Regions from separate parts of the Homo sapiens genome. Here regions 2 and 3 are each linked to region 1. Evidence: fine-mapped expression QTL. A gene starts in region 1. Each other region holds a variant in brackets. All regions are shown on one strand. Distances are from middle to middle.

Region 1 (4,236 bases):
TCCTACTTTGGAGATGTTAATCATGATTATTTTAATTGGACAGTAGAGCTCCATCAGCCATCCCATGCTGCCCTGTTATACTTATGGAGTCTGACGACTGGAATCGAGGAGGCAGTGAGCTTAGGGGTCTTGTCCTGCCCTCCCACCTATCTCAATCTAGATGCCCCCTCGGCAGCCAGTCCCCTACTGCTCCAAAATCGGGTCACCCGCGCACTGAAGACAGCCTCTGTGCTCTCGGAACGGCTCTGCCGAGCGTGGACCAGCAGGAGCGAGGCGGGCTCAGATGTGAGACGTGTGGGGCGGGCCTTCTAACCAAGACGGCCCGCTTGGTGGACCCCAGCACTCGAGCTTGTTGGGTTTTAATCATTTTTCCTCGGCCCTGGATTGCGTCAGAGTTCCGCGCTGCGAGTTCAAGTCTTTAGAAGTTCCTAGGGCCTCGAAAGCGCCCAGAAGGGAATTTAAACCATGGCAGCGTCCAGAGGCACCGGCCCCAGCCCCACTGGATGTGTGTGGGTCGAGGTCTTCGGGTAAGGGCGAGATTCTCGCCGTGTGGGGGTCCTCGAACGCGCCTCTCCGACTCGGGCACCAGCGAAGTGTCTAAGAAGTGCCACTGGCTACCTACGCTCAGCAGCCCCACGCTGGGTGCAGCGCCCCAGCCCTTTCCAACCCTCCCGTGCCGCCCTCCGGCTAGGTTGGCTGGCCGTGGGCGCCTCACCTTCAGGAAGTCGCCGCCCTGACAGTCGATGGAGACCTGGTCGTAGTGGATGGTAATGAACTCCTCGGGCTCGCTGATGAAGAAGGCTGCGCAGTGCAGCTGCGGCCGGTCGGCGGTGAAGGTGAACTGGCCCTGGAGGCTCAGCATGTCCAGGCACCCTGGGGGAGGAGGGCATGGGGCAATAAGTCCCGGGCTGCAGCCGCCGCAGCGCCGTCCTCGGGCGGCCGCTCTCCGCGCGCCCCATTCCCGGGCTCTGTAGTGCCCAGCGCCCCGACTTCCAGCCTAGGCTGCGCTGGGTTCCTGCGCCCCGGGCGCGCCACCCTCTCCCGCTCCTGGCGCGCCTCCGCGGACCGATCCTTAGCTAAGGGGACCGCGCCCCTGGCGGTTCCGGCCAGCCCCTTCCCCGAGATGTCCGCGAGCCCTCTGCCCCCCGCACAGAGTCCCACCTTCCCCGCGTCCCGGGCGCCCGCGAGCCGGGCAGCCTCGACTCACGCAGAGCGCGGCGGTACGGCTGCTCCCCAGCCAGCTCCCGCTTCAGGTTGGCGCTGAAGAGCAGGAAAGGATCGTAGTCCGCCGCTTCCCTCAGCTGGCAAGAAACATAGGTCAGTCCGGAAAAGTTCAAGGGCTGGGGATAAAAAAGGGGACCAGGAGCGGGGCACCCTCCCTGCCACTCAGCATAGCGAATAAAGAGAGAGGGGTAATGTTTTCCCGTGTCCGGAGAAGACGGGAAGGTCTTAGACCCTCTCCATCAGGCCAGGGTATCCCCAGCGGCCAGAGGAAGGCAGGCAGGCAGTCTGGGATGCTCAGAGGCAAGGAGGGAGAACAGGATAGGGGAAACCAGGGGCAAGACAGCATCCAGCAGAGAGGGAAGAAACAGCGAACCCCAAAAGGCTGCGAGCAGAGGCAGCCTGCCTGCCGCCTAGGGCTAACACGCAAGGAAGGTGAGATGGGTCAGTCCAGGGGTGGCTCACCTCTAGGTACCGGCTTTCCCCTCTTAGAGCCGTCAGGAAGATGAGAATGAAGTGACACTGAAGTTTGAAGTTGGGCGACATGCTGGCCTTGCCTCTGCAGCTGCTGTGCTCTGCTCCGGAGGTCCTGGGCTTTCCTTCCTACACCCTCGCGCAGACTGAGAGCTAGAAGCTGGTAGGGTCCCTTTGCTGGGTCTCTTTTATAGAGCAGTGGGGAGCGGAGGCTCTCTGCCCCTTAACTGATCGGAGCTCAGTAACCATGGGTTACCCTGTCTCATTGACAGAGTACGTGGCGATGACGAGGGTCCAGCTCTCAGCCACAAATTTTCAGCGTGGCCCAGCATTATTCACCAAGAATGATTTCAGTCACTACAACTTAGTGCACTAAAGTGTTGGAGAATGAGGCGGAGACAAAGAATAAGGGAGTGCATTTTGTTGACCTGCTAAATGCTACATTATACTTTTCTGTGGGCATTCAGGGAATTTTCCATTTTGCAAATCAAAGTGACAAAGTTACATACACGCATAAAATACCCAAACATATAGAGCCTATATTATGCAGCCTCATCACATAACCTTGGATGAAACCATGCTAGAAATTGTCAAAGAATTTAGTATTCATGGAATTTCTCATGTCTCTCAGTAAGAAACTTGAGGCATTTTCAGCTTTAAAGAGGTGGAACAGAAGCAGAAGTCTGATTTTGCAGAAGATTGCAGTAATGCAATTATAAGCTTTCTTCCTGCCCCTTACTCTTTGCTTTATCCTGGTCCAGTTTCTTATAGGCATTTCTTTCATGGAAAACTAACTCTGGTGTCAGGGGACTTCTGGATTTTAGCTGAGCTCTGTCACTTGACCTGGATGTTTACATGATGTACACACTCCTAGACCAGGTAGCTGTAGCCATGACCTTCGCATCCATCTGAACCACTGAGAGATGAGATTAAGTCATTCCATTTCGTGCCTTCAAATACCTGGATTACTTTAACACTCTGGTAGAAGGAACTGCCAGGAAGCTTTATTGTAACTGCTCACCAGCAAATTTGCAGGGCTAAAAAGATGACTTAGGGATCCGGAAATAAGTATAAGCTTATCTCTGCTTATCAGGAGAGAAGAGAATTTCTTCTTTGTGTCCAAAACTGTGGGAAACATGAGGATGCTCCACTATTGGCTTTCCTACCCCTTTCCAGTCTCTGCACCAAGCATTGTTATTACAATTATTACAAATAGACCATAATACAGAGTTATAAAGGAAGGAATGGCTATATTTTCAGTTTTAAAATACTCGAAATTAAACAGTAATTATCCTGGCAGTGTCAGAACTTGATTATTTTCATGTCAGGACAATTCTGAGCTCTGGAGAGGCGGCCTCTTTGTTGGTTTAATCAGGAGGCCTTCGTGCCACAGTCCAACTTTGTAAGCAGTCCTCAGACCACAGACAGTGAGAGGGAAAAGAGTACCTAAAGCTCATGGACACTGGCCACCATGTCCTTCTCATCCCAAGGGCTGTTTAGATGCCTGAATTTTGAAAAGGTTATAAAGAAACCTGGGAGGAATAAAAGAGGAGAAAAACAAACAACTTAACCCCAACTTGCTGGCCTCAAACATGCCAGGCCATCTTCAGCTCTATCTCCCACCCTTTTTGTGCCTAGAGGGAGCCTTAGGCCCACTCACCAGGCATGCCACAGGCCCTCTTCTCTTTCCCATTGATGTAGCCACAGCCCTTGGCCTGTTCCCAGAATTCAGTCCAGCACCCACCTTGGAGACCTCTGCCTTTACCTCTTAGGGGGTCTGGCACCTGATGTCACTCCAGCTCAATGTTGCTTTGTTAGCATCACCAAGGAGACATTCTTCTCCAGCCAGCCCCTTTACAAGCATATGCACATGTGCACATGTGCACACACACATGCACGCATGCACGTGCACAGACAACAGTGATGTTCCCACCCTGCTGTCATGATGCCCACTCCTCAGGAACCACACACAGCAAGAGCTGGGATGAATGAGCACTAACATAGTGACTGATTTTACAAACATCATAGCATAGCATCTGATTTTACTTAATCCACAAATTATAGTACAAGATGGACCTCATTCCCACCAAATTCTAGGTGGATAAATTAATGTGTAGTTTTCACCAGTTTGGTAAATATCTACTAAGCCAGTGGAAACTACCTTTTCTAAAAAAAAAAAAATTAATGGTAATTAAAAGATGGAAACTACAAGCTATCGAGAAAAACTAAGAAGATTAAATTGGAAGACAAGGAGAAGCCAGGTAGCCATTCTCTCTGAGAGAAAGTATTAAAAATAGGTGAGAGAAATGGAAGAGTAATTTGGATTAGGCCGAAGAAAAATTTTCTGGGCAATAAGTAGGCCTATGTGTGAAGACTAAGGATAAATTATTTTCATGGACTGCTTTGGTCATTCAAACAATTAGCTTAATATTTGAAAGTTGTTTGTTCAAGCAAACTGGATTTTTTTTTTAAATATGTTCTGGGAAAACTCAGAGTCCCCAAGTATGCTGATTGGAAATTACCTGTATGTTAACCTCCATT
Region 2 (4,236 bases), 39 kb after region 1:
GGTTAGGTAATTTTGTTTGCTCTGAAGTCCACTTATCTAATGTTAACATAACATTTTAAATTAATGCTTGTGTAATTTTTTGTCCTTTTACTTTCAACATACGTTATTGTATTTGATGTGAGTTTCTTGTAGAGAACATATAATTAGGGCATGTTTTTAATCCATTATGCTAGTTACTGTATTTTAATTTTTATAGTTAAACCATTTACATTTAATGTAACTATTGATATGTTTGGGCTTAAGCCTACCACTTTATCTTTTTTATTTATTTATTTATTTTTATTTTTTATTTATTTATTTTCTTTGAGACGGAGTCTCGCTCTGTTGCCCAGGCTGGAGTGCAGTGGTGTGATCTCGGCTCATTGCAAGCTCCACCTCCCGGGTTCACGCCATTCTCCTGCCTTAGCCTCCGGAGTAGCCAGGACTACAGACGCTCACCCCCATGCCTGGCTAATTTTTTTTGTATTTTTTTTAGTGGAGAGGGGGTTTCACCATGTTGGCCAGGATGGTCTTGATCTCCTGACCTGGTGGTCTGCCCGCCTCGGCCTCCCAAAGTGCTGGGATTACAGGTGTGAGCCATCACGCCCAGCATTTTTTTTTTTTTTTTTGAGATGGAGTCTCACTCTGTCACCCAGGCTGGAGTACAGTGGCACAATCTCAGCTCACTGCAAGCTCCGCCTCCCAGGTTTACGCATTCTCCTGCCTCAGCCTCCCGAGTAGCTGGGACTACAGGTGACTGCCACCATGCTCGGCTAATGTTTTTGTATTTTCAGTAGAGACGGGGTTTCACTGTGTTAGCCAGGATGGTCTTGATCTCCTAACCTCGTGATCCACCTGCCTCGACCTCCCAAAGTGCTGGGATTGCAGGCGTGAGCCACCGTGCCCGGCCTTATGTGTCCGGAATTGATTCCTTCCAGTGGATTCTTGGTCTTGCTGACTTCAAGAACAAAGCCACAGACCCTTGCGGTGAGTGTTACAGTTCTTAAAGATGGTCCGGAGTTTGTTCCTTCAGATGTTCAGATGTATCCGGAGTTTCTTCCTTCTGGTGGGTTCGTGGTCTCGCTGACTTCAGGAGTGAAGCTTCAGACCTTCACTGTGAGGGTTACAGCTCTTAAAGGTGGTGCGTCAGGAGTTGTTTGTTCCTTCCAGTGGGTTTGTGGTCTCGCTGGCTTCAGGAGTGAAGCTGCAGACCTTCGCGGTGAGTGTTACAGCTCTTAAAGGTGGCACGTCTGGAGTTGCTTTTTCCTCCTGGTGGGTCCATGGTCTCAGTGGCTTCAGGAGTGAAGCTGCAGACCTTCACGGTAAGTGTGACAACTCATGAAGTTAGTGCGGACCCAAAGAGTGAGCAGCAGCAAGATTTATTGCGAAGAGTGAAAGAACAAAGCTTCCACAGCATGGAAGGGGACCTGAGCGGGTTGCCACTGCTGACTTGGGTGGCCAGCTTTTATTCCCTTATTTGGCCCCACCCACATCCTGCTGATTGGTCCATTTTACAGAGAGCTGATTGGTCCATTTTACAGAGTGCTGATTGGTGTGTTTACAAACCTTTTAGCTAGACACAGAGCTCTGATTGGTGCATTTACAATCCTTTAGCTAGACAGAAAATTCTCCAAGTCC[C/A]CACCCAGCCCAGAAGCCCAGCCGGCTTCACCTCTCAATCCCCCCTCTAAACAGGATGCCCCAACTGCTGTTGGGAATTTGGCCGATGACCGCTTTAGCTACTTCCTGCTGGATAAGGGCAAAGAAGGAGCCCTGCAGTTGTAATGTCCTCCAGAGGGGAACTCTTTAGGCCAGTGGAAGGGCCAGCAGGTCAGTCCAGGGGTCCTCGGTAGAAGTTGTTGGTTGAACTCATTTGGTGTTCCACTTGTAAGACCATCTGTGGCTTGATGGCCTTGATTCCAGAGGAAACAAATTTGACAAAAAGGTTAAAAATATAGGGCCCAAAGGTGAGTAACAGCAAGATGGCTGCCATGGGACCTAGAAAGGGGAGAAGCCATGTTGCCCAACTCCAGAAGTTGGTATAAGAGCTTGAAAGGTGTTGTCTGATTTCAGAAGCCTTTTCCTGTAAATGCCGGGCAGCATCTCGTACTATCCCTAACTGGTTAGTATAAAAACAGCACTCTTCCCCTAAGACGGTGCAGAGATCTCCTTTCTCAGCAGTGAGGAGGTCTACGCCTCTGCGGTTTTGGAGAGTCACTGCCGCCGAAGAGTCTATTTGGGATTGTAGAGTAAGGATAGATTTTGTTATCTCTTGCAAACTGTCTGAGAAATCCTTTGAGAGTGTGTGGTAGTAGGATAATACATGTTACACTGTTAACTTTTAGCAAACTTTAGTTGAAAATCTTGTAAGTTTGGGATTTTTTCTTTGCTGTTAATAAAACCTTGTTCAGTCCATATTAACTTAGAATTGGTATAGATAATTCCTTCCTGATTCTATAAGATGGCTCCTTCCTGATTCTGTTTGTCTGAGTGCAAACAGCTCGCAGGTTTGAGCAGACATATCATTAGGCAATTTTCCTAACTCTGATTTTACAAGAGTTTCTTTATCACTTACTGAATATCCATTGTGTCTTTTTCCCTTAATCGCCTGGGAGGAAACATCTATCTTCCTGTCCTGAAGGGAGTTCCTCCTTGGTCTGATCGGACCTTTGTATGGTAATTAGTTAAGATTTAGATCCCCTGTTAGGAAACCTGCTGGGTTAAGGATTTTTGATAGGAAGGCTATGGGTTGTCAGTGGCCTCAGTGCTTTCAGGCTACGCCCTTGTTTACACTGACAACAAGGTGGTATTGGAGTGTTATAGGGTTACAGAGAAGACCTTCAATTATCAATTATAGGTTCTAAAGTTACCTTGGCTTTTAAAGGAATAGGGTATACGTTTTTTCTTTACTACTTCCATCTCTCTTTCTTCTCTTTGACTTCTTCTTTGTCTCCTTCTGACTCCCTTTTTGTCTGTCTCTTCCTCTCTCTGACTCTCTCTGTCTCTCTGACTCCCTATTTGTCTCTGTCTCTTCTCCTCTCTCTCTCTCTCTCTGACTCCTTCTTTGTGTCTGTCTCTTCCTCTCTCTCTCTCTTTCTGTCTCTTTCTCTCTTTTCTTTCTGCTGGTCTTTCCTTGCCTCTGCCAGCCACTTATGCTGCTGTTCTCCCTTCTCCTTCCCCTTTTTGATGGCTTTGGCAGTGTAAGACTGCCACCTCCTTGAGTATTTGCACTGAGTGCAATCACTCCATGATTTCCTTGTCGTATTTTATGGGGGTTCCCCCCAGAGGTAACTCTCTTTCTTCCCATATTACAGCATGGGCATGTAGGATTAGATAAGCACATTTGCTATCCGTATACACATTTATTTTTTTTTCCTCTTTCCCAGTTCTAAGGCTCAGGTAAGCACCACTAGTTCTGCTAACTGGGCCCTTGTCCCTGGGGGAAGAGGCTTACTTTCAAGTACGGTTACATCATTAACTATGACATAACCTGCCCTTCATATCCCACTCTCCACAAATGAACTTCCATTGGTATATAGGTTAAGGTCAGGATTAGCTAAGGGGACTTCTAAGAGATCATCTCGGGTGGCATAAGTCTGGACTATAATTTGTTGGTGATCATCCTCGATTGGGTCCCCATCCTCTGGGAGAAAAGTGGCAGGGTTGAGGCCATGCACATATGTATTTGAAGCACCGGTCCCTCAAGGAGTAGCACCTGGTATCTAAGTAGGCGGATGTCTGATACCCATAAACTTCCTTTGGCACCTAGTATGCCATTTACATCATGAGTAGTCCAAACAGTGAGATCCTTTCCTTGTATTATTTTGATAGCCTCTGACACTAAGCCAACGCCGCAACTACCCTTAAACAGTGAGGCCAGCCTTTTGCTACTACATCAATTTCCTTACTTAGGTATGCCACTGGTTGTGGGGTTGTCCCACGAGTCTGAGTAAGGACTCCAAGAGCTAGCCCTGCACTCTCTGTGATGTATAAAGAGAAGTATACAGGGGCCTGGCTATCCCTCTGTATCCAGGGATCCATAGTCAGCAAAAGCCGGTGATTCCAAGGAACCCCCGCAACTGTTTTAATGTCTTAGGGTGAGGATAAGCCAGTATAGGCTGTATTTGTTCCTTGCTGAGGGCCCTGGTACCTCTGGCTAAGATCAGGCCTAGATATTTGACCTGCTATAGGCAAAGCTGGGCCTTCGATCTAGGCACCTTGTACCCTTGATTAGCTAGAAAGTTCAAGAGATCTAGAGTA
Region 3 (4,236 bases), 78 kb after region 1:
TCCCAGTTACTCCGGAGGCTGAGGCACAAGAATCACTCGAACCTGGGAGGTGGAGATTGCAGTGAGCCGAGATCGTGTCACTGCACTCCGGCCTAGGAGACACAGCAAGACTCCATCTCCGAAAAAAAAAAAAATACAGTAGCCAAACGGAATGAGAGGAAAAGAAAAGTTTGTGGGAATTCTAAGATCACTATAAAAATGTCGTGAAGACTAAGTTAAAAAATACTTTATAGAGCTTTTCCCAAATAGAGGGTGGGGAGAAACATGTGTTGTAATTAACAGTCTCTGTAGTCTTAACACAAGGTTTGGAGAGAATAACATCACACGAGGGTAGCATATTGTGCTAAAAATCAGTTTAAGTCAACTCTATAAACACCAGCGTGAAGTGTTTTCCTTGGAGGAGGCCCCAAACGCTACAATGTACGGCTTCATATATTAATCTCTCAAACTCCTGGCTATTTTGAGAAATGAATCTGTTTGCTACCCCACTGGTCACTGGCCAAACACATCCTTCTATCAATCCCAATCAGTCTGTGCTCGGCTGACAAAGCTCTCTAAGTATTTGCCATTCACTAGAAAATTTGCCACCATAGCATGAAGTACCCCACCTCTGAAGGTAAAGTACCCCTTCACCTCTGGCCCAATACATAATTTACAGACAGCTGGACCAAGCTCCAGGTATAACTAGCTGTAACTAGTTATAACTATAACTCTGGCTATAATTAGCTACATCTTTGCCGCACCAGAATGTTAATTGGTGAAAGTCAAAAATACAATTTTTACCACTTAGAAACCCTAACCCCAGGTAACACGAAAAAGGGCACATGCCTATGTACACAGAAAACAAACGTCTCCAGTGTTTGCTTCCCCTATATTTTGAATCTCTGTACAAATTTGGCTGCATTTGTGACAGAATCACAGGACAGTATGAACCCAAAGGCTGTCCTGGAATCTGCACCTCATCTACCCTCAAATGAATACAGCATTTACAAAGGCCTGACTCACCGAGAGGAATTCCGTGAGCTCTCGCTGCAGGAGCAGTTTCAGTTCCCCCTTGCTGAGCTTGAATCTCTTCCTTTCCTTGCCAGAATAGCGGTGGAAGATTCTAATCATGGTGTCCATGGCCATCTCGAGCTGGGTGGGCATGTCGGCAGCAGAACTGACCACTCCAGAAGCAGGCCACCAAACCCGGGGAGAAGACACTTGTTCAGAATAAACAGATGAGGAAACACCAACACTTTCATTAAAACAGAATATTACAATCCCCCGAGTCAGCTCGCCACACAAGTGATGGTTGTTAAAAACATAATAGTCTGCGCAGGCGCGGTGGCTCAAGCCTGTAATCCCAGCACTTTGGGAGGCAGAGATGGGTGGATCACAAGGTCAGAAGATCGAGACCATCCTGGCTAACACGGTGAAACCCCGTCTCTACTAAAAATACAAAAAAAAATTAGCCGGGCGCGGCGGCGGGCGCCTGTAGTCCCAGCTAGCTACTCAGGAGGCTGAGGCAGGAGAACGGCGTGAACCCGGGAGGCGGAGTTTGCAGTGAGCCGAGATCGCGCCACTGCACTCCAGCCTGGGCGACAGAGCGAGACGCCGTCTCAAAAAAAAAAAATTAATAATAATAATAGTCTTTCATTAAAGAGTGTTCCACCCTTGCTGGGGCAAGCTGCAAATAAGCACTTCGCAGCTGAGTTGTTTCTCCTCGCTAATCCCTACACCCCCAAGAGGTAGCAGCTCCAGCATATTCATAAGACAACCAGGTAACAGGTACAAAGTCAAACTAAAATATAGAATTTAAAAATAAATAAAAATAGGAAGGAAAATACCTACCTGTTCAACAGATACACAGCTCTGTCAATGGTTGTTTACCATTAAACTATAAGCATTTATACGTGGGGGAGGGGGAAACGTTCTCCCCAGCACACCTGTTTCCGGGAAGATGAAAATTGCCAGTGACAAGAGATTCAAAGGGAGGTGCCTCTGCTCCGTATTTAATCACCAAAATGAACAGGTGTGAGCTGCTGCCCCAAGGGTCATTGAAGAAGGCTAGTGCTCATTGGGTGCATTAGATAAGAAGGCAAAGACAAAGCAAGAGGAAGCCTTATCTCTCTTTAGGGGAGTGTGGATAGAAATGCAATTAGTTGCTAGGAAGCTGATGATGGGGAAGAACTCTAAAAATAGGGGAGCAAAGAAGAAACACTAGTTCCAACCTGGAGATGACTCAGCAAAGCCAATAGCAAGGACAAGGGAGTAAATTCATAGTAGATTAAACTAACCCAAAGGACAGTTGAAAAAAAAAAAAAAAGAGGAAGTGCTCCACGCACTGATTTAGAAAGGTACAAAGCAGTGCTCCCAACTGTGTAAAAAAGAAATAATACATGTGTATGTGTGCTTGCAGTTACCTAAGGAGTCACTGAAAGGAAACAAAATATAATACTATGTTGGGAGCTGTCAGGGGTAAGGGGGG[A/GA]AAGGGTAGAACAGAGTGGTTGGGAGTAAGACTTCCCAGTGTACACCTTTTTAAGTGATTTTAACTTTTTCAGTTATAGGAATGTATTACCTAATAAAAAAGTTGAAATAAACCTCAGAGCAGCTGTGTGTGCAGGAATCCACAACAGATTTCCAAGTGAGAGAAACTTAATAAAGAAAGAGTCCATGTAAAAACCAAAGCCAGATATTGGCCACTGTGCTTTTAAATCCTGCCTGTTCTCTCAGGACTGAAACTTAATTATACGGAAAGCAAGCCAGGATCTCCTTTTTATTTCCCTTCAACAAAGTAGTCAGTATGTAACCTCAACCATCCCATCTGCCCCTGGCCTTGCTGCCTGGCTACTCCACTGCAACCTCCCTGCAAGGTTCCCAGGAGGTGTTCACTGTACACCTAACACAAAATTTTCAAACATATTCAGGCTGGGCACAGTGGCTCAATCCTGTAATCCCAGCACGTTGGGAGGCAGATCACTTGAGGTCAGGAGTTCGAGACCACCCTGACCAAAATGGTGAAACCCTGTCTCTACTAAAAATACAAAAATTAACTGGATATGGTGGTGCACGCCTGTAGTCCCAGCTACTCGGGAGGCTGAGGCAGGAGAATTGCTTGAACCCAGGAGGTGGAGGTTGCAATGAGCCAAGATCACGTCCCTGCACTCCATCCTGGGTGACAGTGAGACTCCGTCTCAAAAAAAAAAAAAAAATTGTTAGTTTTTATTGTCAAAGTAATATAGGTAAAATAATATTTTGAATACTTAGGAGTATGAAATAGTAAAATTCTCTCTCACCATTCCCTACCCTAGTAATTACCCTTTGTAAATTTTTCCTGTGTGGGAGGCAGTATCATGGTGGCTAAAAGCATGAACTGCCTGGCTTTACCTCTCACCTCTGCCACTAGTTGTGTGATCCTGTGCTGGTCAATTAGCATCTATGCTGCATTTTCCCCATTAGTCTAAATGGGGATGACCATAGCACCTACTCAGAATGGAAAAAACAAACTCTATACAATATTTATTTTATTTATTTATTTATTATTATTTTTGAGGCAAGGTCTGACTCTGGTTGCCCAGGCTGGAGTGCAGTGGTGCCATCACAGCTCACTGCAGCCTCGACCTCCTGGGCTCAGACAATTCTTCCATCTCAGCCTCCCAAGTAGCTGGGACTACAGGTTCACACCACCATGCCTGGCTAATTTTTATTTTTATTTTTGTATTTGTAGTAGAGATGGGGTTTTGCCATGTTGCCCAGGCTGGTCTTGAACTCCTGAGCTCACGCAATCCGCCTGCCTTGGCCTCCCAAAATGCTGGGATTACAGGTGTGAGCCACTGCACCCAGCCTTATTTTATTTATTTTTTTAAGACAGAGTCTTGCTCTGTCACCCATGCTGGAATGCAGTGGCCCAGTAATGGCTCACTGCACCTCAACCTCCCAGGCTCAAGCGATCCTCCTGCTTCAGCCACCTGAGTAGCTGGGACAACAGGCACATGTTATCATGCCTGACTAATTTTTTTATTTTTGTAGATATGGGGTCTCCCTATGTTTCCCAGGCTGGTGTCAAACTCCTGGCCTCAAGTGATCCTCCTGCCTTGGCCTCCCAAAGTGCTGGGATTACAGGCTTTAGCCACCTTACATTGTCTCTGTGAAATACTTAAAGAGGTTTATTTTGAGCCGATATGAGTGACCACGGCCCAGGGAACTGTCTCAAGAGGTCCTAAGAAGGTATGCCCAAGGTGGCAGGTTACAATT

Alleles and levels. Alleles are on the strand shown, and positions count from the first base shown. SD is a standard deviation of normalised expression in the study named. Not every link is listed here.
For the expression in iPS cells of the gene that starts at base 1,857 in region 1, GA is the low allele of the variant in region 3 and A is the other (moderate effect, 0.42 SD a copy in HipSci).

The links. PIP is the estimated chance that this variant, and not a neighbour inherited with it, causes the effect.
Region 2: its variant is the best candidate, but not a certain one, in a credible set for the expression of CRHBP in whole blood (TOPMed, PIP 0.55).
Region 3: its variant is the best candidate, but not a certain one, in a credible set for the expression of CRHBP in iPS cells (HipSci, PIP 0.52).

What each region holds. Positions count from the first base shown.
Region 1 is chr5:76,950,666-76,954,901 of GRCh38, reverse strand. CRHBP (corticotropin releasing hormone binding protein) reads right to left here and starts at 1,857. Exons shown (of 7, transcript NM_001882.4): 1 at 1,687-1,857; 2 at 1,208-1,301; 3 at 716-873. The coding sequence starts at 1,767. It also overlaps a transcript of S100Z not described here. RefSeq lists an enhancer at 445-1,131.
Region 2 is chr5:76,911,677-76,915,912 of GRCh38, reverse strand. The region is part of intron 4 of S100Z (S100 calcium binding protein Z); the gene reads right to left. Among named protein-coding and RNA genes, the nearest start is that of CRHBP, 39 kb to the left of the region's middle. The variant C/A (reference allele first, on the strand shown) is at 1,618.
Region 3 is chr5:76,872,270-76,876,505 of GRCh38, reverse strand. It overlaps S100Z (S100 calcium binding protein Z), which reads right to left. Exons shown (of 5, transcript NM_130772.4): 3 at 1,006-1,202. The coding sequence starts at 1,146. Among named protein-coding and RNA genes, the nearest start is that of S100Z, 24 kb to the right of the region's middle. The variant A/GA (reference allele first, on the strand shown) is at 2,471.